7 linked regions of the Homo sapiens genome follow. The protein of the gene in region 6 purifies or fractionates together with the protein of the main gene of each other region. This does not show direct contact. Each region holds a gene or a part of one and is shown on either strand. Other genes may lie near its edges. The genes, in order: PIP4K2B, RGPD5, FBLN2, ACAD11, RANBP2, NEMP1 and DLGAP5.

The links.
Region 1: the proteins of NEMP1 (region 6) and PIP4K2B purify together in Homo sapiens (affinity purification with mass spectrometry; one large-scale study listed by BioGRID and IntAct). This does not show direct contact.
Region 2: the proteins of NEMP1 (region 6) and RGPD5 purify together in Homo sapiens (affinity purification with mass spectrometry, with the first as the bait; 2 studies listed by BioGRID). This does not show direct contact.
Region 3: the proteins of NEMP1 (region 6) and FBLN2 purify together in Homo sapiens (co-immunoprecipitation; one large-scale study listed by IntAct). This does not show direct contact.
Region 4: the proteins of NEMP1 (region 6) and ACAD11 purify together in Homo sapiens (co-immunoprecipitation; 3 studies listed by BioGRID and IntAct, with this or other methods). This does not show direct contact.
Region 5: the proteins of NEMP1 (region 6) and RANBP2 purify together in Homo sapiens (co-immunoprecipitation; 3 studies listed by BioGRID and IntAct, with this or other methods). This does not show direct contact.
Region 7: the proteins of NEMP1 (region 6) and DLGAP5 purify together in Homo sapiens (affinity purification with mass spectrometry; 2 studies listed by BioGRID and IntAct, with this or other methods). This does not show direct contact.

Annotation. Positions count from the first base shown.
Region 1 is NC_000017.11:38,789,021-38,793,231, forward strand, and holds part of PIP4K2B (phosphatidylinositol 5-phosphate 4-kinase type-2 beta), read right to left. Parts: intron 3,866-4,211; exon of another isoform or gene 3,706-3,865; intron 1,349-3,705; exon of another isoform or gene 1,218-1,348; intron 1-1,217. UniProt on the Homo sapiens protein: Participates in the biosynthesis of phosphatidylinositol 4,5-bisphosphate. Preferentially utilizes GTP, rather than ATP, for PI(5)P phosphorylation and its activity reflects changes in direct proportion to the physiological GTP concentration.
Region 2 is NC_000002.12:109,855,275-109,858,436, reverse strand, and holds the end of RGPD5 (RANBP2-like and GRIP domain-containing protein 5/6), read right to left. Parts: exon of another isoform or gene 2,748-3,162; intron 2,576-2,747; coding exon 2,541-2,575; 3' UTR 732-2,540; downstream 1-731.
Region 3 is NC_000003.12:13,614,645-13,618,855, reverse strand, and holds part of FBLN2 (fibulin-2 isoform a precursor), read right to left. Parts: intron 781-4,211; coding exon 571-780; intron 476-570; exon of another isoform or gene 308-475; intron 1-307. UniProt on the Homo sapiens protein: Its binding to fibronectin and some other ligands is calcium dependent. May act as an adapter that mediates the interaction between FBN1 and ELN.
Region 4 is NC_000003.12:132,561,874-132,566,084, forward strand, and holds part of ACAD11 (acyl-CoA dehydrogenase family member 11), read right to left. Parts: intron 1-4,211. UniProt on the Homo sapiens protein: Acyl-CoA dehydrogenase, that exhibits maximal activity towards saturated C22-CoA.
Region 5 is NC_000002.12:108,778,217-108,782,427, reverse strand, and holds part of RANBP2 (E3 SUMO-protein ligase RanBP2), read right to left. Parts: intron 1,160-4,211; coding exon 999-1,159; intron 301-998; coding exon 27-300; intron 1-26. UniProt on the Homo sapiens protein: E3 SUMO-protein ligase which facilitates SUMO1 and SUMO2 conjugation by UBE2I. Involved in transport factor (Ran-GTP, karyopherin)-mediated protein import via the F-G repeat-containing domain which acts as a docking site for substrates.
Region 6 is NC_000012.12:57,054,914-57,058,949, forward strand, and holds the end of NEMP1 (nuclear envelope integral membrane protein 1 isoform a precursor), read right to left. Parts: 3' UTR 730-4,036; downstream 1-729. UniProt on the Homo sapiens protein: Together with EMD, contributes to nuclear envelope stiffness in germ cells. Required for female fertility. Essential for normal erythropoiesis. Required for efficient nuclear envelope opening and enucleation during the late stages of erythroblast maturation.
Region 7 is NC_000014.9:55,181,216-55,185,426, forward strand, and holds part of DLGAP5 (disks large-associated protein 5), read right to left. Parts: intron 2,539-4,211; coding exon 2,345-2,538; intron 1,218-2,344; coding exon 1,155-1,217; intron 83-1,154; coding exon 1-82. UniProt on the Homo sapiens protein: Potential cell cycle regulator that may play a role in carcinogenesis of cancer cells. Mitotic phosphoprotein regulated by the ubiquitin-proteasome pathway.

The sequences.
Region 1 (4,211 bases), on a different chromosome or scaffold from region 6:
AGGTGGGAGGATTGCTTGAGGCCAGGAGTTTGAGGTTACAGTGAGCTGACTGCACCACTGCACTGCACTCTAGCCTGGGCAAGAGTGAGATCTTGTCTCAAAAAAGAAAATAAAATAAAGCAGGGCCAGTTCCTGATGTCAAGTCCTGCCATACACTAAACTAAGGGAGATGGGGCAGGATGCCTTGCCTCTACTGCAAACAAACCTTCTGACTTTCATCCCTTCAGGGAGCTGGATCCTAGACAGAGAGCTAGCTTTCCATTGGTGCAGAGATGAGGGCAGATCCTGCCCTTCCCCACCTCGAGTTTAGCCAGTTAGTGGTCTAATTAACCACAGATGTCCTCTCCCATCACAGCAGAGTATTTGACATTTGACCCTCAACCCAGTTGCCACTAATGCATTCAGGATTTACAGAGGAAACCTTAGTCCTGACTTAATGGACTGGGGGGAGGGGGCACAGCCTTGTGTCTCCCACTTTCCTTGCAAATCCTGTTATCTCAATGAGGCCCCAGGTGGCAGTGAGGGGATAACCTAGAGTCATTAGAACTCCTCCAGGAGCATAAATGGGGGAAATGGCATTTAATTTGCTGCTCCTTTTATGTTACAAACCTTTTTTATTTAGAAATGTCAGAGAATGGAGGAAGTTCAAGTTAATGCAGTAACTGGGCTGGGGAACCATATCTTCCTAGAGTTGGGAAAAAACCCAATTTACTCATGGAGAAATGAAGGAAGCCATAGGAATGCACGTGCTTTGAGAGGGATGCTGGGGGCAGGGTAGTTTATAAGTTGGCAGTGGAGCAGACACTAGGTAAACTGCTGGCAAAAACTGGCATAGACACAAGAGTGTATCCTGTATAATTCCATTTATATGAAATTCTACAGCAGGCATCTATAATGAGAGAAATGAGATGAGTTGCCTGGCCAGGGGGCGGGGGGTGCTGAGTGTAAAGGGACATGAGAAGTGTGATTCTACGGTGACAGAAATGTTTTATATGTTGCTTGGGGTGATGGTTACATGAGCAAATACATTTGCTGAAATTCATCAAATTGTATACTTAAAATACGCACACTTAATATACATAAATTATTCCTCAATAAAGTTGATTTTTAAATTCCCAGCATCAAGCTCTGTGATACCCTTCATTGGCTAAACCCTCCCAATAGCCAAAAAAAACCCCAGAAGAGTCATGCCAGTTCCTATTCCAGGGGGTGCTCACAAGAGAATGTGACTGTCAAATCTGTGCCTACAGAGGAAACCATTCCACTTCTTTGTTTTTCTGCCAACAGAAACAATTCGTGGTGGCTGTCCCATTTCCTTTTTCCTGGCATATCAAGCCTGGCTCCGAGACTTAAAGGGAAAACAGAGACAAAGAGTTCAGGGCTCGGCTGGGCGCAGTGGCTCACGCCTATAATCCCAACACTTTGGGAGGCCTAAGGGGACGGATCACGAGGTCAGAAGATCGAGTCTTGCTCTGTTGCCCAGGCTGGAGTGCAGTGGCAGAATCTCCGCTCACTGCAACCTCTGCCTCCTGGGTTCAAGCGATTCTCCTGCCTCAGTCTCCTGAGTAGCTGGGATTACAGGCGCATGTCACCATGCCCTGCTAATTTTTGTATTTTTAGTAAAGATGGGGTTTCACCATGTTGGTCAGGCTGGTCTCGAATTCCTGACCTCGTGATCTGCCTGCCTCAGCCTCCCAAAATGCTGGGATTACAGATGTGAGCTACTGCACCTGGCCCAGCCTAGGAAATTTTTAACTCAGCTAACATTGGTGAACAATCCATATCTCAACTAGGGGAGACTTACCCCTCATTTCTACTAGGCCACATGTAGATGATTCACTGTAGGGATTAGCCCTATTATTATTATTTTTTTAGTTGTGTGAAATTTTATATCCCAGAGAGTTCTATTCCATTTCAATTGAACTGTTCCTATTGAAATATCTGCTACGTGCTTCATTCTGTTAGGTAGGTGTGTGGGAGGAGGAGAACACAAGGGGAGAAAGTGTTGTACATGCAAAAGAAACAGGAGGCTTATAATCTCATCAGGGAGATGAAAAAAAACCCTGACACCCTCAAAGTCAAAGCAGTATGCAATTAAGTGAGAATCCAGGGATACAGACATCAAGAACAGCAGAGGCTCAGAGAAGGATGAGGCTAGCATGGCCAGAGGGTCAGGCTCCCAGTCCTCATACATCAGGCCAGAAACAAGGCACCTAATGCCTCTCCTGGTATTGCACCAAGAGCACTTGACATTAGGAGAATCTACAAGATCATGCTACACTCCTGCTTAGAAATCTTCCATGGCTGCTCCTCTCAACCTCAGGGTAAAGTTTTAACTGCTTAGCCTGGCATTCAAGGCCTTTCCTAATCTGGCTCAGACTGCCAATTTTTTTTTTTTTTTTTTTTTTTTTTTGAGATAGAGCTTTGCTCTGGTTTCCCAGGCTGGAGTGCAATGGCGTGCTCACCGCAACTTCCGCCTCCCGGGTTCAAGCAATTCTCCTGCCTCAGCCTCCTGAGTAGCTCGGATTATAGGCATGCACCACCATGCCCGGCTAATTTTGTATTTTTAGTAGAGATGGGGTTTCTCCATGTTGGCCAGGCTGGTCTCGAACTCCCGACCTTAGGAGATCCACCTGCCTCGGCCTCCCAAAGTGCTAGGATTACAGGCGTGAGCCACCGCGCCCAGCCAGACTGCCAAATTTCTATTCAATTTACTTCTACTCAGTGTATTAAGGGCCTTACTATATGCTAGGAGCTGGGGATACAAAACCAAAAAGACATCTGCAGAGCTGGGCGTAGTGGCTCACGCCTGTAATTCCAGCACTTTGGGAGGCCGAGGCGGGCGGATCATGAGGTCAGGAGATCAAGACCATCCTGGCTAACACAGTGAAACCCCGTCTCTACTAAAAAAAAATACAAAAAAAAATTAACGGAGCATGATGGCGGGCACCTGTAGTCCCAGCTACTCGGGAGGCTGAGGCAGGAGAATGGCGTGAACCCACAAGGCGGAGCTTGCAGTGAGCCGAGTTCATGCCACTGTGCTCCAGCCTGGGTGACAGAACCAGACTCCGTCTCAAAAAAAAAAAAGCAATGAGTTCACTCTATGCTGATCTACTGGAGATGAAAATTCCTTGATTGATTGATTGAGACAGGGTCTCACTTCCATAGGCCAGGCTAGAGTGCAGTGGTATGATCTCAGCTCACTGCAGCCTCAACTTCCTGAGCTCAGGTGATTCTCCCATCTCAGCCTCCCTAGTAGATGGGACTACAGGTGTGCCATCATGCCCAGCTAATTTTATTTCTAGTAGAGACAAGTTTTCGCCATGTTGCCCAGGCTGGTTTCAAAGCCCTGGGCTCAAGCAATCCATCCACCTCAGTCTCTCAAAGTGAGAGGTATGATTCTGTTGTACATATACAACAGAATACTATTCAGCCTTTAAAAAAAAGAAGAAAATTCTGCAATATGCAACATGGAGATGAAAATTCAGCAGCTAGTTCTAGTCTGGTGAACTTGTGTGTCCAGAAGCCTCCACTTCCCTGTGCGACCTTCATAGGAATTGTTACCTAGGATGCCTGGACTAGGCATGCAGGTTTCCTGACATGTTCCAGTCCTCTGCTGTCGGTTCAGCAGTGGGCTGGCCACCACCAGCAATCACTTGTTACCTGCCACCATCAGAAAACATGACATGCTAGAAATACACTCACAGGACCGAGGAGGTCCAAAGCAAGAACTGCAACTCCAGAGAGGAAGAGAGGGCCACAGGAGCCAATAAATCTACCGGTGTTTACTCCTCCTTTCCATATCTTGCTTTCTCCTTCTCCTGCTGTTTGAGTCCCACTGCTCCCTGTGAGGTGGGAAGGCCTGCTAAAAGAAACTTCATTCAAAGGCCTGAGTAGGAATGTTCTCTAAAGATTTTTTTTTTTTTGAAACGGAGTCTCACTCTGTCGCCCAGGCTGGAGTGCAATGGCGCGATCTCTGCTCACTGCAACCTCCGCCTCCCGGATTCAAGCCATTCTCCTGCCTCAGCCTCTTGGGTAGATGGGATTACAGGCGCATGCCACCACACCCGGCAAATTTTTGTATTTTTAGTAGAGACAGGGTTTCGCCATGTTGGCCAGGCTGGTGTCAAACTCCTGACCTCAAGTGATCCGCCTGCCTCGGCCTCCCAAAGTGCTGGGATCACAGGCGTAAGCCACTGCTCCCAGCCATC
Region 2 (3,162 bases), on a different chromosome or scaffold from region 6:
ACCAAGGAGTGATGTGTGCACCAGGCCCAGGGCTGAAGAGCTGCTTCTCACTAGATGCCTCTCTTGGTCTGGCTGCTGTGTCCAGTCCTATCCAGGGTTAGCTCTGTTCCTCCTCCTTGTGGCATCTGTGTTTCTCTTTCTGCTCTGCCTCTCCCCATCTCCTAGTCCAAACATCCAAAGAAATAAATTACCTCCAGGAGATCGAGACCATCCAGGCTAACACGGTGAAACCCTGTCTCTAGTAAAAATACAAAAAATTAGCCGGGCATGGTGGCCGGCGCCTGTAGTCCCAGCTACTTAGGAGGCTGAGGCAGGAGAATGGCGTGAACCTGGGAGGCAGAGCTTGCAGTGAGCCGAGATCGCGCCATTGCACTCACGCCTGGGCGACAGAGCAAGACTCTGTCTCAAAAAAAAAAAAAAAAATTAATGACCTCTGCCCCTAACTGAACAAAGCCCTTCATCTAAGGCCACCCTTTGGTTGGCAGCCTTAGCCAGACATCTGCTTCTGGTCAAATCAATGTCTTGTCCACAGGGAGGCCCAGCGCTGTTTCTGGTTTTAGCTGGATGCAGGGTGTCAGACATGGCAGGTACTACGGTCTACCTGGCGGGTATCAAAGAGTTGGTCGACGTTCTCACAACAACCTAATAGGGACCAACCATGGAAGGCCAGTAGTAAAGGAGTTTGAAGTTCCCTTTCAGAAACCAATTAACAACCCCAAAGAGACAGTGGGTAACATAAAAGAGCAGCCATAAAAATATACAGTTTTAATAGAAATATTAAAATAATCATTACACTTCCTCTCATTGCAGAAACCATGAAAGAATATGCCTTTTGTAATCAAAGTAATTTTTTATCATGCAAAAAAGTATTTTGTTATGACATTCGTAAGTGGAGACTGTATTTCAAAACAAGTTTATACAGACTTCAAAAGGTCTAAAGTCAAAGTGAAATATATTTAAATATGATTAGTTACATCTAATGCAGCTGGCATACTCATATTCACAGTTTATAAAGTAAAAAAACTAAACTCTTCATGTCGGCTCTGAAATAGATGCATTTTCATTCATACATTCGCTAGTTAGGTCTGTTCTTCTAAGGAGGAAAGACGAGATATATGAGATATTTTTTAAAGAACAAACTCAACATATCAGCAGCAAATTTCAGTTAAACTAAATTGGAAACCAATGTTCTGTGTAACCAAAGTGCAAAGTCAGTTCCCCAGCTCAGAAAGAAAATTAAGAGTATAAACTGAAGGCTTAAGAGAACTTCAGAGAGCACACTGTGTGATTAATACATAAATATTAAAAATTATCCAATTTTTGATTTAAGAACAACACAGTTTGGATCTAGTCATTAAAACATATGCACAGGTGTCAAAGGCAAGTAACACTACCACCTAAGGTTATTCGGAGGAACTGTGAAGATGTAGCACGGACCTCTAAGGTGTCTAAAATCCCTTCTGATGGAAAGGTTATGGAACACTATCTGCCAAAAACACTGAAAGCACCACTTTTATATTTAGATCCAATGCTGAGTGATATAGTCACTGTTGGGATAGGTTTTTATTTGGGAAAATGGAGAGGATTCTCAAAACAGATTCATGGCTTGCATGCAGTGACACCCTATCAAGAGCCTGGAAAGACACCATGAAATCACCTCAACTCAAGTGGTGGGCCCACCTACTCATAGTCAGTGTTACACTAGCCAGCTCTAGGGCTCTGACAACATAATGAGTTTTGAGGTAGTATACTTTAAAGAAAAAAAGAAGAGTTTATTTTAAAGCAAATAACTAAACTGTATTTTAACTTAGCACAATTAACTGCAGCATATTTACTTCATAGCCCCTTAACATGTCACTTTTACCAACAAAGCTTTTTCCTTCATATTCTAATCACAAAAATTTCTCAACAATTTATAACAATCTGTAAATCTGACCTTGCAATAAATAGTCATAAAACGTTATTTTTATTACTATTATTATTTTTAGAGACAAGGTCTCGCTCTGTTCCCCGAGCTGGAGTGCAGTGGTACAATCACAGCTCACTAGCCTCAAGCGATTCTCCAGCCTCAGCCTCCCAAAGTAGTGGGATTTCAGGCATGAATCACCACACCTGGCCTTGAAACATTATTTTTAAAGCCTAAATTCCAGTTGGTATGGTACCAAAATTTAGTTTAACTTCAAAATTCACAGTACTGCCGAGAAATGGGCGGGTCCTGAGGTTCCAGAGAAGTGGGGAGTGAATTCATTCCTGGTGGTTTTATTCTGGCAGCATGCATGGGAGATCACATGAGTTAGAGGGCTGTGGCCTGGTATCAACACTTCAAGCTGTTGTACTTTTACTTCAAGTTGAAACTTTTAAAATACATCTGTCATACAGATGTACAAATATATGTAAATGCAAACATATATACACACTTTTTGACAAAAGAATAATGGTAACACACACGAACCATTTTTGTAAACAGATTCTATTTGGTTAATAGAAGTATTCCTTCCATCAACCTATCGAAGTCCAAACCAACTACGAAGATAGGATGCTCATCCAGAAGAACGGGAAGCATTTTCTTCCTCATCTTTAGAAAGTAAAACAAAGAAAAAAAAAAGAAAAAAGAGAGTATTAAAATTTCTCAATGTAAAATCTATATTTTAGAACCACTCTACAATATAAGCAAATAATGTCTTTTTTACTGATCACATGCCTTTTTTGGTGGGGGGGGGGGGTTCTTTTTTTTTTTTTTTTTTTGAGATAGGGTCTTGCTCTGTCACCCAGGCTCGAGTGCAGTGGCGTGATGAGACTTCAATGCAGCCTTGATCTCCCAGGCTCAAGTGATTCTCCCACCTCAGCCTCCCAAGCAACTGGGACCACAAGGTGTGTACCACCATGCCTGGGTAATTTTTTGTTTTTTTGTAGAGATGCAGGTCTCACTGTTTTCCAGGCTGGTCTCAAATTCCTGGGCTCAAGTGATCCTCCCACTTCAGCCTCACAGTGTTGGGATTGCAGTCACGAGCCACTGTACCCAACCATATGTCATTCTTTAGACACACTGCTTACTAAATTTCTCTTTTTAAAGGATATACTGAATTTCCGGTTGAGCCAACTTAACAGCTAATTTTCTATTTTAGCTTTAAAACATTGATAAGCAACATGAAGCAATCTAGA
Region 3 (4,211 bases), on a different chromosome or scaffold from region 6:
CAGCCAGGCCTCAGGCACTTCCAGGCACCTGCCCTTCTCACACAGGGCACTGACATTTAATCCCCCACCCCATTTCACAGGAGAGGAAAATGAGGTTTGGAGTGTGCATATACCTTGGGAAAGATCAATCTCAGCTACTGGGGGCAGAGGGGGTAGAAGGAAAGGAGGCAAGGAAGAAGAGAGGGGGGAAAGGAAAAAGAGTGTCTGGATTAAAAACCAATCAATTCTGGGACCAGTGACTGGGAGGAAATCCCTCAGGATCACCATGGGCCCAGCACTGGGGAGATAGCTGGGTTTTGGTGAGAGCCTCTGTGGCCTGAGCCTGTCCCTGCGCTCGAATATGGGACAAGGTGCTGGGGCCAGGTCCCTGCAGATGGAGCCCCAGGAAGAAAGCTTCTATTTTTCCTGCCTCACAAATCCCCCATCACTGGAAGCTTCAGGCTTCTGTGGGTTCCAACTTGTGGGGTAACAGGAAGTGAAGGACCCCACAGTGTGCACCCCAGGAATGCCACACCCCCTGGCAAGATCAGCCCTTCCCATAGCCCCTGCCCTGGCCATCAGGGCCCTTACCTGGGCGGCAAGTGCGGCCATCGTCCTGCAGTGAGAAGCCAGGAAAGCAGGCACAGTGGTAAGAACCCACAGTATTGATGCAAAGGTGCTGGCACAGCTCTCCCGGGAGGAGAAGGCACTCATCCTGGTCATCGCCCGGCAGGCTGTTCGGCAGCTCGGCCTCTGTGCCCAGTGACAGGGCCTCTCGGCCCGCCATCTCTGCCTCTGAAACTAGGACAGGGGTTAGAGCTCAAGACAGAGCCAGCTTGGTCAGAGTAGGTGGCTGAGACAACCAGCTTTGGGAAACTAGTGCAGGTCCTCATCAAGACCTCTGTGTGCCCAGCAGACAGCAAGGATGGATGAAGCAGGATGGATGGATGGGTGGGTGGGTGGATGGGTGGATAGATGGATGGATAGATGGGTGGGTGGGCAGGTAAATAGATAGACGGATGGGTATAGATGGATGGGTAGATGGATGGGTGGATGGATGGGTGAGTGAGTGGATGGGTGGGTGGATGGGTAGATGGATGGGTGGGTGGATGGGTAGGTGAATGAATGGGTGGGGGGGTGGGGGGGGTGGATGAATGGATGGATGGATGGATGGATGGATGGATGGATGGTTAGATGGATGGGTGGGTGGATGGGTGGGTAGATGGGTGGGTGAATGAATGGGTGGGTGGATGGGTGGATGGATGGATGGATGGATGGATGGATGGATGGATGGATGGGTGGATGGGTTGTAACTGGATGGGTGGATGAATGAAGGAGGATGGATGGGTAGATGGAAGGATGGGTGGATAGATGGATACATGGGTAGACGGATGAATGAGTATTTGGCTGAATGGATGGATGGGTGGGTGGATGGATAGATGGATGGGTAGATGAATGGATGAGTAGATGGATAGATGGATGGGTGAGTGGGTGGATGGGTGGATGAGTGAATGGAAGGATGGGTAGGTGGATGGATACGTGAATGGATGGATGAATGGGTGTGGGGCTGAATGGATGGATGAATGGGTAGATGAAAGAGTGGATGAGTGGATGGGTAGATGGATGGGTGGACAGACAGATGAACAGACGGATGGATGGACTGGTAGGTAGGTAGATGGATGGATGGATGGATGGATAGATGGATGGATGGATGGATGGATGGATGGATGGATTGATGAATGGATGGGCAAATGAATGAACAGACCTCAAGCAGTAAGAATGAACCCATCAGAGCCAGGTCCAAGTCTTCATCACTGAGTCCTCTACAATAGGACAGGGTCAGATCCACAAAGAAGCTCTCACTAAAGTGTTACAATGGATTCAGACCCCTGACCTCAGTGACATCAAGGAGGATCATCCTTAGCAGCAGAAAGGGCTCCAAATCTGGGCTCTATTGGATCAGATGTGACCACTGACCTGGGCCTTCCCTAGCTGGGTCAACTTGGGCAGCACTAGGCCTCTCTGTGCCTCCAGATTCTGGAATAAACCCATCTCCCAGGGTTGTGCTGGGGAGCAGGTGAGAGTGGAAAAGAAGGCTCCTGAGGCTGAGCTGCCTTGGGAAGCTCTTTGTATGACAACTGTGGGGAAAGCATGCAGCCAGGACTTCAGGGGGAGGCCTACAGCCCCTCTAAGCTCTGTGCCAGCCCAGGGCCTCCTTCCCACCCCACCCAGGCAGCAGAGCCCACAGAGAGAGTAGCTGCATGAAGTCACGTATGAGGAACGTGTTTCATATGGAGGGTGTTTACATTAAGCTGCAGCCCAATCAGTCCCAGCCGGTGCCTCCAGGCAGGGCCATGATGGCTGGCGGTCTGGTCCCGCAGAGACTCAGCACTGCAGGCAGGCGGCGGACAGACCTGGACCCAGGGCTCCTCCTAGCACACCACAGGCTAGACAGTACCTCCAGGATTCAGGCTCAGCTCACCCTCACCAGCATCTTCCTCACAGGAGGAAGCATGGATCTCTGGCCAGGATCGTGCCTGGCTCTGTTGCCCACCTACTCCCTTCCACCCACCTGCCTTTGACTTTTGAAGCCGGACTTCCTCCCAAACTCTACCTTCAGCCAGACTCTTCTGGGTACTAACCTGGCCTTCACACCAGTACTCAACCATTCCCCTTAGAGCCAATCTCAGCAAGTAGCACTTCCTTGGACTGGACTTACTCTCTGTACCCACATTGGATTGGCAAGGGTGGTTGGTACATCTGTTCTGGTTGATCTGCCCAGGTCTGGCCTGGTCCAACCCCCACACACTCACCCCTGCCTCTGCCTCACCCTGATGGGAGATCCAGGTATCTGTTCTCCCACCTGTACCACACAGGATATGAGCTCTTCCTGTAGGATCTCCTGAGCCCTGGCACCTGTGGACAGCAGGCATCTTAACCCCTATGCACAGACTTCTGCCATCTTGCATTATAGTGACAGAGATCTGGGTCAATCGGAACCAAGGCTGACTGGGTCTAGATAAAACTCAGGGCATCAGGAAGGCTGGGGCAGAAGTGGGAGTCATTAGAGCCAAGGTGTCCAGTCCTGGCTGTGCCAAAGACCCGGCATGTGCCTGGGGCAAGATCCTGCCCTTCTCTGGGCCTCATCTTCCCCCTCTGAGCTGCTGAAGCACGGCAACGGTAACAGCAACAGTGGTGGCAATGCTGAATGCATCACTAGGCACTGCCAAAAGCCCTTGACAGGCATCCTATCATTCATCCTTGCACTGAACAAGGTAAAGAATACAAGACCATTTGACAGATGCCACAGTGAAGGCTCTGAGAAGGAGCCTTCCTTCTGTGTGACCTGCCCCAGGTAAGCAAAGGAACTAGGATTCCAACCAAGTCTGCCTGACTCCAGAGGCCAAGAGTTTAATCTTGATACCAGGACCTCATCTGTGGCTTTAATTCCCACTCCATGAAGTGCCCAGGACAAATCCACAGGGGCCCCAGATGACGGTCCATAGGAACAGCGAAAAAACTGGGCTGGTGGTTCTGGAACCTACCTGGACATCTGGTCCCCAACCAGTTGAGGCTGAACATGTGGACACCAACAAAGCAGGCCTGCCAGGACTCTCACGGCACCAGCCCCAGGGCCACCAAGGCCCATGTACAAAAAGGACATCTGCTGACTCACTGGGGCACCCTCATCAGGCTCCTGCAGACCCACCAGGCACAGAGGAGGCTAATGGTCATGGGTCCAGGAGACAGCCCTGGCTAGGGGACAGGGACTGGACATGGCAGCTGGAACAGTGGCTACAGCACAAGAAGGGAAGAAGAAGGGGGTGACACCAAGGACAACGAGGATGGATGCATGGATGGATGGATGGATGGATGGATGGATGGATGGATGGATGGATGGATAAGCAGATGGATGAACAGACGGATGGGTGGGTGGATGGATGGATGGATGGATGGATGGATGGATGGATGGATAGATGAATAGATGATCAGACAGATGGATAGATGGACAGATGGACAGATGAATGAATGAATGGATGGGTAGGTAGATGGATAAATGGATGGATGGATGAGGGATGGATGGATGGATGGATAAACAAACGGATGGATGAGTGGATAGTGGATAGGTAGATAGATACATGGATGAATGAATGGATGGATAGATGGATGGGTGGGTGAGTGAATGGGTGGATGGGTGGGTAGGTGGATGGATGGATGGATGGATGGATGGA
Region 4 (4,211 bases), on a different chromosome or scaffold from region 6:
CACTATAGTTTTGCCTTTTCCAGAATGTCATGTAAATAGAATCATATAGCATGTATTGTTTTGAGACCAACTTCTTTCATTCAGTTTAATGCCTTTGAGTTTCATCCAAATTGTTCTGTGTATTGACTGTTCATTCCTTTTTATTGCTGAGTAGTATTCCATTGTAAGTATGTATCAGTTGGTTTATCCATTTGCCTGTTGAAGGACATTTCGGTTGTTGCCAGTTTTTAAATTTTATTTATTTATTTTTTGAGACAGACTGGCTCTGTCGCCCAGGCTGGAGTGCAGTGGCGCCATCTCAGATCACTGCAACCTCCACCTTCTGGGTTCAAGCGATTCTCCTGCCTCAGCCTCTGAGTAGCTGGGACTACAGGCGCCCATCACCATGCCTGGCTAATTTTTGTATTTTTTAGTAGAGACAGGGTTTCACCATATTGGCCAGGCTGGTCTTGAACTCCTGACCTTGTGATCTGCCTGCCTCGGCCTCCCAAAGTGCTGGGATTACAGGCGTGAGCCATCGCGAGATTATTCATAGAGTTTCTGTGTATTTGTATACGGGTTTTTGTGTGGACATGTTTTCATTTTTTAAAGCAGATAGCAGGAGTAGAATTGTTGGGTCAGTGGTAAATGTTTATTAAGAAGCTGACAGTTTTCTAGAGTGGTTGTACATTTTGCATTCCTACTAGCAGTGTATGAGAGTTCCAGTTGCTCCTCAAACCATCAGCACTTAGTATCATATTTTATTTTAGTCATTTTAAGTGTGCAGAGATATCATGGTTTTAATTTGCATTTCTGTAATGGCTACTGCTGTTGATCCCCTTCAATGTACTGATTTGCCATCTCTATACCTCTTTGGTGATATGTCTGTTAAAGTCTTTTGTCCATTTTTTAATTGGGTTGTTTTCTTACTATTTGATTTAGAGAGTCCTTCATATATTCAGGACGCTAGTCATTTGCCACATGAGAAATCTGTCAATTCTTTCTTTTATGAGCCTTGCTTTTGGTGCATGTTTAGGAACATTTTACCTAATCCCAGAAAATGATTTTTCCACTATGTTTTCTTCTAAAAGTTTACAGCTTTACCTTTTACATTTAGATCTATGATCCATTTAGAGTTAAAATTTTGTGTGAGGTGTGTGGTTTAGATCAAGGGTCCCTCTTTTGCCTATCTATGTCCAATTGCTGCAACACCATTTACTGTAAAGATGTAACCTTTTCCATTGAACTGCCTTTGCACCTATGTAAAAAATTAATTGGCCTATATTTCTATGAATCTATTCCTGGACTCTCTCTTCTGCTCCAAAGATCTACATGCCTTTTGCTCACTGATTACTGTAGTTTAGAGTAAGTCTTAAGATTAGGTAGTGTGATTCACTGAGCTTTCTTCTTTTTCAAATTGTTTTGGCTACTTTAGTGTTTTTGTATTTCCATATAAATTTTAGGATCAGTCTGTCTTTATCTACAAAATTGTCCTTTTGGGACTGTGATTGGAACTGCCTTAAGTCTGCAGATCAATTTGAGGATGGTTAACATCTTTAATCTGTTAGTCTTCTAATCTACATATTTACTTAGGTCTCCTTTGATTTATTATATCACTTTTTTCTACTTTTTAGTGCATGTGGATATTGTACGTGTTTTGGTAGAGTAGTACTTAAAAAAAACTGTTGTAAATGGTATTTTAAAACTTTCAGTTCCCCCATTGTTCATTGCTTGTATATAAAAATAAAATTGTTACGTACTGACCTTGTATCCTGTGACTTTGCTAAACTCACTTATTAGTTCTGGGAGGGTTGTTTCGTTTTGTTTGATACGTTCCTTAGGATTTTCTATACAATCACATTGTCATCTACAAGCAGGCCCAGTTTTACTTCTTTTTTCCCCCAACTACATGCACTTTTTTTCTCTTGTTTTACTGCACTGCCTAGGAATTCTTCTATGATCATAAATTGGAATAGTGAGGGTGAACATTCTTGCCTCATTTCCAGTTTTGGGGGAAAAGCATTTAGTCTTTCATCATTAAGTATGATGTTAGATTTTTAAAAATACTCTCTATAAAGTTGAGTAAATTCCTTTGTATTCCCAGTTTGCTGAAAGTTTCTATCATAAACAGATGCTGAATTTTGTCAAATGCCAAAGCATCAATTGATATGATCATGTGATTTTTTTAATGTTCATGCAGTTTTTGCTGTTAGTTTGGCAGATTATAATAATTTATTTTTAATTATCGAGTTATAGACATGAATCAGGCTTGCATTTGTGGGATAAACCCTACTTGATTATGCTGTATGATTATTTTTACATACTGCCAGATTCTATTCGGTAATACTTTGCTGGTGGTTTTTGCATCTATATTGGTCTATGGTTTGTTCTTGTCTGGTTTTGGATTAGGATGATTCTGGCCTCATAAAATGAGTTGACAAGTGTTTCCTCCTTCTCTATTTCTGGAATAGATATGTAAAATTGGTGTTACTTCTTCTCTAACTGTTTAGTAGAATTTACCAGTAATACCATCTGGGCCTGAAGATTTCTTTTTTCAGCAGCTTTTTAACTTTGAATTCAACTTCTAACAATAGTTGTAGAACTATTCAGGTTATCTACTTCATCTTCGGTGAGTTTTGATAGTTCATGGGATTTGAGGAATTGGTCTACTTCATCTAAATTGTTAACTTTATGTGCTTTGTACACATACTAGAGCGTGTGGGTCCCAAGTCCTAGATCTGGAATGGAGGAGACTCTACTTCAGCCTTGGCTCCAGACCCCATTCTCCAATCCATGTTTTCCCAGAGAGCTCTGCATTGTGGCTTACAGACAGCCTACACAGACTAAGAAAATAAGTATGTCTGATATCCTCTGCTTCTAACAAGGATGGAATCGATATATTTTTCTCTATTCCTTCTGTTAAGTACAACTAATAACCCTGGGCATTATCTATAAAACAAACATAAGAAGACTCTGAAAGGTAGAGAAAAGGCAGACTATTTAGGGACTTCAGGTCCAAAAGAATAACCTAGTGGTGTGTTTCCTAGGTTTTCTTTTTGCCTCATATATCTCAGCTGCTGAGGTTCTTCCCGGCAGCTGAAGAATCTAGTAACCTGGAAATGTCAGTGAGCACAGACCAAAACAAAACAAAAACATAAAGCACCCCAACAAAAGTATAATCTCTCTAACCAAAGGATCAGGAAAGATGCAGCCTAGCAAGCCAAAAATCTTTTAGAGAATAACCACTTTACTCCAGCCAAACACCACAGAAAAAACATTGGCCCCCACCACTCCTCACACCAGCAAAGGCAGGATGGGGAGCGTAGGCTTCCACCCTGGCAAGCACTGTAATGAGGTGCCCCAGCTCCCCTGCCAGGAAGGTATCAGACAGTGCCAAGTAAAAACCTGAGGCTTTCCTCCCCACTGGCCAGTAATAAGTCCCCCCAACCCATCTTATGGGTTGTTAGTGCAGTCCAAATGGGATGCCTGGACTTTCATCCCACCTGGCAGTATGAGGGCATCATCCTCTTCAGGTACTGATGGAAGCTGGGAGGGGAACCTGGACTTCTCTCTCTGCCTAGCAGTAATGAGGTGATGCCACTCCTTTCTCTGACAGAATGGTGTCAAAGAAAGCCAAGAAGGTTTAAAAAGGTCCAGAGTCTCACAGTATAAAACTGTTCAGGTTTCAATTTTATAAATCACCCATAATACCAAAAACCTGGAACAATTCAAAATTAATTTTTAAAAAATAAAGAGACACCGTGATATAGTTTGGATGCTTGTCTCCTCCAAATCGCATATTGAAACATGAAGGTGGAACCTAGTGGGAGGGTCATGGGGGAATATCCCTCATAAATGGTTTTATGCCTTCTCTTCAGTAATGAGTTCACATGAGATCTGATTGTTTAAAAGAGTCTGGGATGTCCCCCCTTATCTCTCGTTCCCTCTGTTGCCACGTGATGTGCTGGCTCCCCCTTTACCTTCCACTATGATTGTAAGCTTCCTGAGGTCTCCCCAGAAATAGACATTGGCATTAGGCTTGTACAGCCTGCAGAACCATGGGCCAAACAAAACCTCTTTTCTTTATAAATCACCCAGTCTCAGGTATTCCTTAATAGCACTATAAAATGGACTAACACACCCAGATAACAGAGATGTTAGAATTTCTGACAAAATTTTAAAGCAGCCATGATAAAAATGCTTCAGTGAGCAGTTACAAACACAGCTGAAGC
Region 5 (4,211 bases), on a different chromosome or scaffold from region 6:
AGTAGCATTTGAATGTAAAAACTCACCAGCATAATCTGAGGCAGTCCAAACTAAAGCATTATTTGAAACATTTAAGGGCTTTAATTCCATTGTTTTAGTAATAACGTGGTTTGCACACACTTTAAAAACCTGGTCTCTTCTCATTAGGATCCGGTAATAATTCTTCATTGTATGCCAAAGAATCTTTATATCTCCAACACCGCGCTCCTTCCACTGACTGACATCCCGATCCCATCTATAAAGTTTGGCTCTCTCTTTAAACAAAATTTCTTCATCTTCTTCTCCAGATTTTACTTCTACCTATAATAGGAGATGAAATTCTCTATAAGCTGCTGCTTATAATAAATTCCATGACAAATTTCAAAGATCCAAATTCTTTTAAGGCATTTTCTTTGTGATGACAAAGAGAATTTGTTAATGTGATAACTGGTTATATATCTTAGGGCTAGGAATATATCTGATTTGGCTGAGGGAGTAAAGACCTGATTTATCATTAAACATTTTCTTTTATATAATATTCATTTTCCCTTTGGAAATTAAATGCTTTTCTTTATAGGACAGAGAGGTTTCAAAAGTGTTTGCTACTGAAGAGAAATATTAGCTACTGACTGAGGTTAAAAAATGACAAAGTAATTTTCCTAGAACAATGTTCTTGTCCAAAAAACATACAAGGTTAACATTTATTGAAAGGACTTTAGTGAGTATGAGGTTAATTTTTCCCCAGAATCATGTTATAAAAACAAACATGATATTCTAGAAACATAAGAAAAAATTATTTCTTACCAATAATTACATATAGAATTTACAAACCAATATTTATGTAAAAACTGTAAAAAGATAATTTATACTTAAAGGCTAGACATCTAATAAATAGAGCTTCCATTTCAAACAGTAAACATTCTTAAATGCAAACAATTATACCCTGACAGATCAAGCCAGGGTAAAACTTAAAAATGAAAAATAAGTTATTAGTAAAAGGTTAATTCCTTAACATTTACCTCTGGTAGTGACACTATTGGTTCAAAATGGATATCTTCATTATGAACTACTTCTTCATCACTACCATCTTCATCTTCACCAACTTTACCGGCTGACTGGGTTCCGACTGACTGTGTTCCAAACACAGCTGCTCCAGTATTTGCCCATTGGAAATTTTTATCTGATGAATAAATCAGGATATTTAAACACTAGTATCTATTTTTTACATTTTTCATCCCCCTCTTATTTTATCAATCCCTCTAATTCCTGATGATGTAATATGTACATCAATTTTAAATGTTTAAAATTATATTATTCTAGTAAATTCCTCACGCCTGTAATCCCAGCACTTTGGGAGGCCGAGGTCACCTGAGGTCAGGGGTTCGAGACCAGCCTGGCCAACATGGTGAAACCCCATCTCTACTAATAATACAAAAATTAGGCTGGGCGCAGTGGCTCACGCCTGTAATCCCAGCACTTTGTGAGGCCGAGGTGAGCGCATCTCCTGAGGTCAGGAGTTCAAGACCAGCCTGACCAACATGGAGAAACCCCGTCTCTACTAAAAATACAAAATTAACCAGGCATGGTGGCATATGCCTGTAATCCCAGCTACTCGGGAGGCTGGGGCAGGAGAATCGCTTGAACCCAGGAGGCGGAGGTTGCGGTGAGCCAAGATGGCACCATTGCACTCCAGCCTGGGCAACAAGAGTGAAACTCCGTCTCAAAAAAAAAAAGAAAGAAAGAAAGAAAAGAAAAGCCGGGAGTGGTGGTATGCGCCTGTGGTCCCAGCTACTTGAGAGGCTGAGGCAGAAGAATCGCTTCAACCTGGGGGGCAGAAGTTGCAGTGAGCTGAGATTGCCCCACTGCACTCCAGCCTGGGCAACAGAGCAAGATTCTGTCTTTAAAAAAAAAAAAAAAAGTTAGCAGTGTGTGGTCATGGGTGACTGATCCCAGCTACTCAGGAGGCTGGGGCAGGAGAATCACTTTAACTTGAGAGGCAGAGGTTGCAGTGATCAGATACCGCCCCACTGCACTCCAGCCTGGACGACAGAGCAAGACTCTGTCTTTAAAAAAAAAAAAAAAAAAAAAATTAGCCGGGCGTGGTGGCGGGTGCCTGTAATCCCAGCTACTCAGGAAGCTAAGGCAGGAGAATCGCTTGAACTTGGGAGGCGGAGGTTGCAATGAGCAGAGATCGTGCCATTGTACTCCAGCCTGGGTGACAGAGCAAGACTCTGTCACCAAAAAAAAAAAGGAAAAAAAGGAAAAAAAAAAAAGCTAGTAAATTCAACTCATACTGTTGAGTACAGAGTACATTTATTATTGTTATGCTTAGCGATACAAAGATAAGACTGTCACTGCCTTGGATAAACTTCCTAATACTAAACTACACAAGGACTTCCAAGTAAAGAAGTAGGTTCTTTTTACCTACTTCTAAAATTTCAAGTACCCACCTTGAAATTTTGTAAACTTAGCTCAGCAGGCCAAACCTGCTACTTCCAAATTAGCCACAATGGCCTAAACATGTTTATAATTTCTGCATCTCTACTTCTTCCTGAAGAAGCTAATGCTGGAATGTAGATTTCTTGGTTGGGCTGGTGGAAAGCAGCCTTGGGAGAATCTCACTGACTTCAACTGCCCAAAGGGTATTAGATTGTTAAGCATCCTACTTCTGTATGGGGGAACAATGATGGTCTCACTCTCGCATACCTGCAAGAAGGTGAAAACTAGAAACTTCTCCATCCCATACCTCAATTTAGATGACCAAGTCCCCACTATCTTAGAGGAAAGAAACACCTCTCAACTTTTTATCACTTGCTGAATCACTGTCTTAAAGAACCCTACACCTTCTGCTAAAAACTCTCATGAAAAAGAAAAAATGTCACAGGATACATAACTCAGTACCTTAAAGAACACAATAAAAAATCAACTCTCTTTCAGACAGATTTAATGGAGGGGAAAAAAAAATGTTTTTAAAGAGGAGAGAGGGCCGGGTGTGGTGGCTCATGCCTGTAATCCCAGCACTTTAGGAGGCCGAGGCGGGCTGGTCACTTGAGGTCAGGAGTTCGAGACAAGCCTGGCCAACATGGCGAAACCCCATCTCTACTAAAAATACTAAAAGAATTAGCGGGGTGTTGCAGTGCATGCCTGTAATCCCAGCTACTCAGGAGGCTGAGGCAGGAGATCACTTGAACCTAGCAAGCAGAGGTTGCAGTAAACTGAGATCTGCGCCACTGCACTCCAGCCTGGGCAACAGAATGATCGTCTCAAAAAAAAGAGACAGAAAGACAAAAATTCTTAAGGACATATTGCAAAGGAATGATCTGAGAACAAAAGCCACAGGTTGCATGGGAACTTCCTGAGAACAGTAACCACTGATCTGGATGAGATACCAACTTGGGGGCTCAAAAATAACTGTTCAGGGCCAGGTGCAGTGGCTCATGCCTACAATCCCAGCACTGTGCAAGGCCAAGGTGGCAGGACTGCTTGAGCCCAGGAGTTTGAGACCAGCCTGGGTAACATAGTGAGACCCCTGTCTCTACAAAAAATGTAAAAATTAGCTAGGCATGGTGGTACACACCTGTGGTCCCAGCTACTTGGGAAGCTGAGGTGGAAGGATTGCTTTAGAGCCCAGGAGGTCAAGGCAGCAGTGAGCTGTGTTCATGCCACTGCACTCCAGCCTGGGCAACAGAGTGACATCCTGTCTCAAAAACAAAAACAAAAACAAAATTGTTCAGCAACTTTTTTGCCAAAAGCAAAAATTTAAAAAATAACCCCAAGGGACATGTGGCAGAAGAATTCAAAATTATTTCAAAATAGTGGTTCTCTACCCTGGGAACACATTAGAATCACCCACTTGTAAAAGTATTTGTAATATATCAATATCTGGGTCTCACAGGTCATAACTGGGCCTACAGTAATGTTACTGTAAGTGAATAATTAATTTGGCAAGCTTTGAGACATTAGAGAAAATAAGATTGAAACTCTAAATTATCTGGAAATTTACAAAAGTATAAAGATTCCCTATGAAAACCTGTGGATACAAACAAAACTGACTGCAAGGCATTTACAGTTTCAAATACTATTTTTAACAAGCACAATCTAAATTAACTAAAGTAAGCATTCAATACACAAGAGCTTGGTGAATAAAAATGACAAGTGGTAGTGAGAAGTGAATGTTAATGCATAAGGCTTATTTAGGCATGGTTTCCTCCCGATATGTGAGTACTGCCTAC
Region 6 (4,036 bases):
AGGAGAATCACTTGAACCCGGGAAGCAGAGATTGCAGTGAGCCGAGATCATGCCACTGCACTCCAGCCTGGGCAACAGGAAGAGACTGTCTCAAATAATAATAATAATAATTAATTAATGAGATGAAAAAACATAGGTACAGAGTTAATATGAATATTACAAAGGATTCCCAGAGCAAAGAAGGTAGCCAATACATAAAATGAAAGGTACCAGACTCCTATGGTAGAAGCTGGGCCTAGACATAATTTAAGTTTTTATTCAATACACATAAGGCTCACTACAGCCCTACTCTCTCTTCCACCCTATACAGAGCTCTTGGTAGGGATCCCATAGCTGGAGCCATAGGTCTTCTCCCCATCCCAATGGACAAACAAAAGAGATACTTTATGCCATAAAAAAAAAAAAAGAACTAAAATATAATCAGAGTAGTTCCTTGGGCCAAGAATAACCTGTATTTTGCTTTTCTATGAGACAGCATGGTAGTACAACCTGCTGCTCCTGCAAGAATACCCCTTAGAGATTTTGCATCCTGGGAAATCATCCAGTCCAAGGATGAAAGTAGACCAGTACAGACTCGGGACAGGAAGGGGTGGCTAAGAAAAAAAGGGAAATCAGTGGCATGCAAAACCATCTCATTAGAAAGATGAAACTGAGGAGTAAATTGCTGATTACCTGAAAACAAGAAATCCAAACAAGAAAATATTATGTTCATTAAGAAAGACCACAATATATCTATAAAACTTTTATTAAAATTGGAATTAGAAACTATACCAAAAACTTTAAAAATACATTAAGACATTGTTCTTTTTTCTTACAGAAAAGAGGGTGAAAATAAGACCCATGGCAAAGAGCCATCCCTGATAATTTTGTTCCTTTCAAACATTCATGAACATTTAAATAAAATTACAAATATTTAAATAACCCTAAGGTATTACCCACAGGCTAAAACTTGCCAGTAATTCCTTAGCCCTGCTATTTCAATATCAATTCCACAAACATGGAAAATTATGGTAACTGCAGGCTGTAACAGTTTCTAATATTCACATTATGAACTATTTGTTATGTTGTCATAAGAATGTGCTCATGCTATAGGCAAATTCAGAGGTGATTTCACCATTTTCAAATTATCATCAAGAGTGTGAAAGAGGAAGATGACACACACGTGGGATGGTGTGGAAATCCAAAGCCCCACATTTTGGGAGTCTGTGACCACTCCCATCTGCCACTAAAGCTACGAGTTGGTGTTGGCATGAATCTGCTTTGTTTATTCCCAGCAGGCTCTGGCTCGTGTCACATAAGGCACCAACATCCTTTTCAAGGTAGTAACCATCTAGAATCAACTCAATTGTAACCTGAATTCATAAGCTTAAGTCACCAAAAGACATCACTGGGTCATAATTATATAGGTTCCCCTAAAAAAATAAAAAAAAAATCAATTTCTGCTATGTAGAAAAAGAAACAAAAGGTTTAGGTGCCTTTGCCTTGTGCAATGGATATTTCATATGTTTATTAATTGGTTTCAGTTAATATGTAATATGAAGGCATGATAAATGTGTCAAACTGTTCTCTTGTTTCAGATACAATTCTTGGCATTTCAATATAGGTTATTATCTCATATGTCAGACTTGAGTCCAGAGAATACTAGAAGGACATTTAATTTCCTTTCCTCCTCCTTCCTTTCACTACTCAATTCAAAGAAAAGTTATGAGTACACAGCTAGGAACCATTTTTACGTAGGCATCCATCTGAGCCCATCTTGTTTTTTTTTTCTAAAACAACAAAAAGACTAAGGACAATTACATAATGCATTCCCAAGCCTTTTATGGATATCAGGGCCTGGGGGGACTATCTGGCCTATTTGGGTTCTTTCATTCACCAAAATTCTATTATACATGCCAAGGGTTAAAGGGAACACCATCAGTCAAGAGACGGCTGGGCCCTAGAATGGAATCTATTAGCATAAAATGGAACAGTGGGACCCAAAGAGCTATCAGCAAAATTCCCTTTGTAACAGACGTAAAAATCATGAATTTGAGGGGAAAAATAAACTAGTTTTGGTGGGATGCAGTGGCTAACAGGAATTACTTATTAGAAGGTAATGAAGTTGCTAAATTTTCCTTGTTTTTGATCCCTGTGTTCTGTTGGTCTCTTGAAGCAATCTGAGTGGGAAAGGAAAGTGAAAGAAATGTTTTATGCCAGCTGCCTCTTGTATTCCCATTAATGGGAGTCTCTACATTAATGCTCTACATAATTTGGTCAGACTGATGAGAGGCAATAGATTTCCAATGCTGATGAGATCCAGAGCCCTGGAGCCCATTTATGGCTTGACATTCACCCAGCAAGACGCTGACGTGGCAGCAAACACGGCTCCAATGTCCAGCTTACCTCATAGTTATCCCTTCAATCCTTCTTGATGAGATTGGTCTGAGAGATGAGACTGTACTGAAATCACAAGAGCTATAACTGCCAGAGAAAAATTAAATGGGGTCTTCAAGTAGTGACTGAGCCAGCAAACTAAGTGGCCAAGAGGGAGACAAGAGCAGCTCCTAAAGAAGGTTGAAGTCAAGCAATCTCCGGAACACAGAGGATCTGAAGCATCTGGGCAGAGCCACAGGCAGGCAGGGCAAGGACACACAGCACACCAGAGCAGCACCGTCCTTCACTGTGTGAGAGCAACTCTCAGGCTGCAGAACCAATTGCCATCTCCACTGCCTACAGCTCAGGTCTCCAACTACCAGATAGGGAGTAAAAAACAGTTTGATTTTATTCACCTCAAGTCTAAACACGGTGGAAAAAAAACTGGTCTAGAGATGGAAACTATATTTCATGGGGGTTTATTAAACAGAGAAAGAGGAGAATCTTTCACAATTTCACAGTGCTTTCTCATTGAAATAAAGACATGATCAGGAAAAGTCACCCTTATAGGCAAGCTATCACCTCCCTAAGTAGGGGAGGCACCAAAATCTCCAGAGAATCCTGAGACCACTTGCACGAGTTGAATTATTTTTTAAAATAAACTTATGCTTAAATATGCTAGGTCTCAATTTCTATAAATAAGGTAAAAAATAGTATATTTCAGAAGTTTTAATAGTTCTTTGTAGAGAGAGAACATTTTACCATGTACATAATTCACAAGGGTATAAAGGTTTCCCAATGTAAAGTTCCTTTTACCCTTCAACTGTAACCCATAGCATCTGCCCAAATACTGCTCATTTTTCACTTTCTACTATATGTCTCTTTCCTGCCAACTGAGGTAGTTGTCACTTAGGACAGTTTAAGGCTCTGGAAAACACTGGTGGAAATAATCAACTGCCCACCTGGAGGGCAGTCTCAGAGCTGACCCTTTGGAAGTCTGCAATGGAGCTAGGCCTTTCAAAATTACCACGCTAAATGGCTGGTCTAAAGGAGTCATTACGGCTTTTTAAAAAATCATCTGCCTTTTTCCATCATCTTGGTGAGCCAGTAAGTCTGGTGCTGTGCGCTTGCCATGACCATCTATCTTCCTGGCTAAGGTAATTACAGACTTTTCCAGGGTATAAGGGTGAAGACCACAAAGAAAAAGAACCAAGTAAATGACAGACACTTGAGAATTTGCTTCCTCACAGATGACATTGCTGGTTTATAAGGGGTACTTTGCAATGGCAAAAGAATCTGAAACTAATGCTACTGCAATAACAGGCAGCATACATCTCAGGTCAGAAACGCAATCATAAATAAGTGTAAGTTCATGGAAACTTGACAGCTGAATGAGCACCCAGAGGCATGAAGATAACCTGGAGCCTATTTCCTGGCAATGCAAATTGTGGCTGCTGCATAACTACAAATTGTGTATCAAGAAACTACATAGTTTCAAGGCTTAAAAATTACCCAGATTTGGGGGAGTATGGGTGGTGAGAAAAGGCTGAAAGGAATGGACAGAGCATGTAGACAAAGGAAGGGAAAGGAAAAGGAGACAGTTTCCTGATTTCATAGCAACTCAAAGATAACATGACCCAATGACAGGAAAATGGAGAACGTATAAAAAGCATCCAAATCC
Region 7 (4,211 bases), on a different chromosome or scaffold from region 6:
TTTTCTCTTTGTCTGACACTTTCTTTTCAGAAGTTTGTCTTGGACCAGGTCGGATTGCTCGAACATCACTCTCGTTATCAATCTATTTAAGAGATTAGGTGCTATGTGATTTAATTGCATAATGAATCAGACCATCATATTTTTAATCTGTAAATTGATTCCTCATATGAAATCTGATCATCGTAAATGACCCAACAACAACAACAAAAAACTACCCCAAATAAAATGAGATAAAGAAAAGCTTTCCATTAAGCTTCCAAAAAAGCTTACATCCTTTTTCACAATCACAGAATTTGGAAAATGCTAATAACCCAAGCTATTAAAAACAGCTCACTATAACTTGCCTTCTGAAGGTCCTTAAACACTCCTAGACATACTTTCACTTCAAGACCTTTTAATTTTGCCTAGAAAATACTTCTCCTGGATAAAAAGCGCTTTCCCATGGTTCTCTTCTCCACTTCCATAATGACTTCACTCAAAAGGCTTTCATCTCAGGGAGGCCTTCCTTAACTGCCCAATCAAAATTCTACCCCATACCTATTTCTAGTACACCCCATCTCCCCTTTTTAAAATCTCTTCCATAATACTTATCATCTTCTGGCATATTATGTATTTTTTTAAATGCCTTACATGTAAGTTCCACAAAGAGAATTTAGTTTATTATATCCAAAAGCCTACAACACCAGGAACATCATAGCAATGCAAAATATATATGCATACGTGGAACTTAGCTTCCTCACCTGATAAAGAGGCATATTATTTCCCTTCTTGCCCACTTCACTTTGTTTTAGTAACCCTCCTGATATCTCTATTACAGTATTTTGAAGACCCGTAAGTTTATAACACCTACCCTGTGTGCTTTCCTCCCCATATGCATTTCATGCAGGTAACTTGGAATGCATAATAGGAGCCCACTAAACAAAACAAGAGTGTGACACAAAGACAGTTTGCCATGGATCTCATACGGAATGTTGGAGCAAATATTTTAAGTGAAATTGCTCTACATCACCATACTAAAAACAGTGACTTTGGTACCTGTTAACTCTAGTAAATTAATCATTATGTTTGAATCTGATACTAGATTTAAAATGAATTTACTTACTAAAAAAGTGCAATTTATCATTTTAGTAACAATTATCTACTATCAACTATACCTTAGTCTGCTCCATTTGGTCTTTGGCCTTTGACCTTGTAATCCGTACAGAAGATGGAATAGCCTTAGAACAGTCAAAAGAAGATGAACTTAAAATATGAACTGGTAAAGGTTTACTTCCATATCTTATTACAAAATAAAGTTCCCATTTTAAAGTTAAATTTTATCCTTAATCTCTTATAGCAAAAAGATACTTAAATTCCTTTTTCTGGTTCTAGCTTGATTTAAATTAAGTTAGTAACTTCAAAAATTACTCACATTTCTCAGTGAGAAAGAAATTTCAAACCGTATTTTCCAGGTATTGGAATCATCATTAATATGAGCTTCTATCCTCTCTTAGTTCTCCTGCCTCTCTGACCAGTCCTCAGCCTGGTACCTGGCTTCTGCCTACCTAAAAGTGCTCTCTAGAGCCCACTTTTTCATAATTTTATATATCCTTATTGGAATGGTCTCATTTAGTCCTACAGCTTAAACACTCATCCATATTCCCAATATTATATCCTAAATCGACATCTTAGCACCAATTTCCATCCTTCTTTCCAAATTTTTACTAATATCTAGGTGGCCCACACAAGTTTAAGATTTTTAAAAAGGTTATTAACATGCACCCACTTAAGCTTGTTCCTTATCTTCCTTATCTCTTTTAGCAGCAGAGCTTCTCTCTGCTTTTTCAATTTCCTTTACCCCTCACCATCTACTTGGCCACCAGTCCTGTCAAATGCCTTTATTTAGATGTCTTACACCTATTTTTTCCTTTTAAAACCCACTGCCCCTTTCCATCTATTCTATTACAATAGTCTCACAATTGGTCTCCCTATCTATAAATGCTTCCCTTTCCAGACTAAAATCTTTAGGGCTATGGTATTTTCCTGAATTATTAATTTGACAACGGCACTACCCTTATTTATAAACTTCTCCTGATTCTGCAAAACCTACAGGATAAACACCAAATCCTTTGCATAACATTGTTCAGCCTGATTCTACCAATTTTCCTAGTTTTATCCTATCTCAACTTACCTACAGCTATCTTAAGAGACCTGATTTTCATTCTTCTGAGCTACTATTATGTCATTCCCACCTTCTACCAACCAGTTAATAATGAGACTAAGGGAAAGGGGTTAGTCACTTAATGTCTTGAAGAAAATACCAAATAAAAGAAACTATTCCTTTATATTAAGACACTAAATTTACCTTTTTTGGCTCAGCTTTCACAGCATTCTGGTTTGATAAAAGAAAACAAGGCATATCAGGTCTATAACGACCCACTTTAAATATTCCTCGTTTAGCTTTCTCTCTCTGCTCTTTCAATTTTTGAAGTTGCTTTTCTTCTTTGTATTTTTGGAGCATCTGTTTTCGTTGATCACCTAGAATAGTTTTCATTGCCCCTAGGCAGAAAAAAAACCAAAACCACACAGTATATAAAACATTTCAGATGAAAAGTTATGCAAATGTATAAACAATTATTTTTGTGTCATTTCAACTGCTGCTAAAAAATGCTTTCAGGCCAGGCACGGTGGCTCACGCCTGTAATCCCAGCACTTTGGGAGGCTGAGGAGGGCGGATCATCTGAGGTCAGGAGTTTGAGACCAGCCTGGCCAACGTGGTGAAATCCCATCTCTACTAAAAATTCAAAAATTAGCTGGGTGTGGTGGCGGTCACCTGTAATCCCAGCTATTCGGGAGGTTGAGGTAGGAGAATTGCTTGAACCCAGGAGATGGAGGTTGCAGTGAGCCAAGATTGCGCCCCTGCACTCCAGCCTAAGCAACAGAGCAAGACTCCGTCTCAAGAAAAAAAAAAAGGCTTTCAATAAGCCAGGCACAGTAACACACCTGTAGTCCCATCTACTGGGAAGGCTGAGGTGGAAGGATCATTTGAGCCCAGGAGTTCAAGTTCAGCTTGAGTAACAAAGCAAGACCTCTCCGCACAAAGGGAAATGCTTTTAATATTTCTTGTTAATTCTTTAGCACTCTAACCACAAGTTATTTCAACCCCTAGTCTTTTAAAATTTGTATTCATTTTGCCTTCATGTGTTCAAATATTAACTGCTTGCTATGTAATAGGCATTTATTACTTCACTTTTAAATTAATTAACTTGTATGATAGCCAGCATCCAAGCTGCCCTCTACTGATCCTCACTTCCTGGTAGTCTTGCCCTGTGTCATCCCCTCACACTGAATAGGGCTGACTTGTGTGACCAAGAGAGTATTACAGGAATAATGGAATATGACTTCTAAAACTAGGGTAGTGTTTGCCTTGCTCTCTCTTGAAGCGTCGCTTGCTCTGGGAGAAGCCAGGTGCCATGTGGGGCCTTAAGAAGACTCAAGCAGTCCTATGGAGATGTCCACATGACAAAGAACTACAGCCTCCTTCCAAAAGCCAGCATCAACTTGCTGTTCATGTGAGTCAGTCATCTTGGAGGCAGATCCTCCAGTCTCAGTTAAGGCTTCAGATATATCTCTGGATGACATCTTGGCTGCTATCTTCAGAATCACCCAGCTCAGCCATACCCAAGTTCCTGACCCACAAAAATTGTATGAAATAATCAATATTTATTGTTTTAAGCTGCTAAGTTTTGGGATAACTAATACAATTATAGGTGCTATTTATTATAATAGATGTACTCTATTTCTTCTCACCTACTCAAGGACATTCTTCCAGCAACTTATCCTCTTACTCATCTATTTTTTCCTCTACTGAATTGTTGCCATTATGAAGTTACAAGCATGCGGTAATTTCTCCCAACCTACATCCTCATCTAGCACTTATTTTTCTAGTCCCATTTAAGGCAAAATTCTTCAAGAGAGTTACCTGTATCTCTACTATCAACACTTTTATTTATTTATTTATTTGAGGCAGAGTCTCGCACTGTCGCCTTGGCTGGAATGCAGCGGCGTGATCTCGGCTCAATGCATCCTCGGCCTCCCGGGTTCAAGCGATTCTACTGCCTCAGCCTCCCGAGTAGCTGGGATTACAGGCGCCCACCACCATGCCCAGCTAATTTTTTGCATTTTTAGTAGAGACGGAGTTTCACCATTTTGGCCAGGGTGGTCTCGAACTC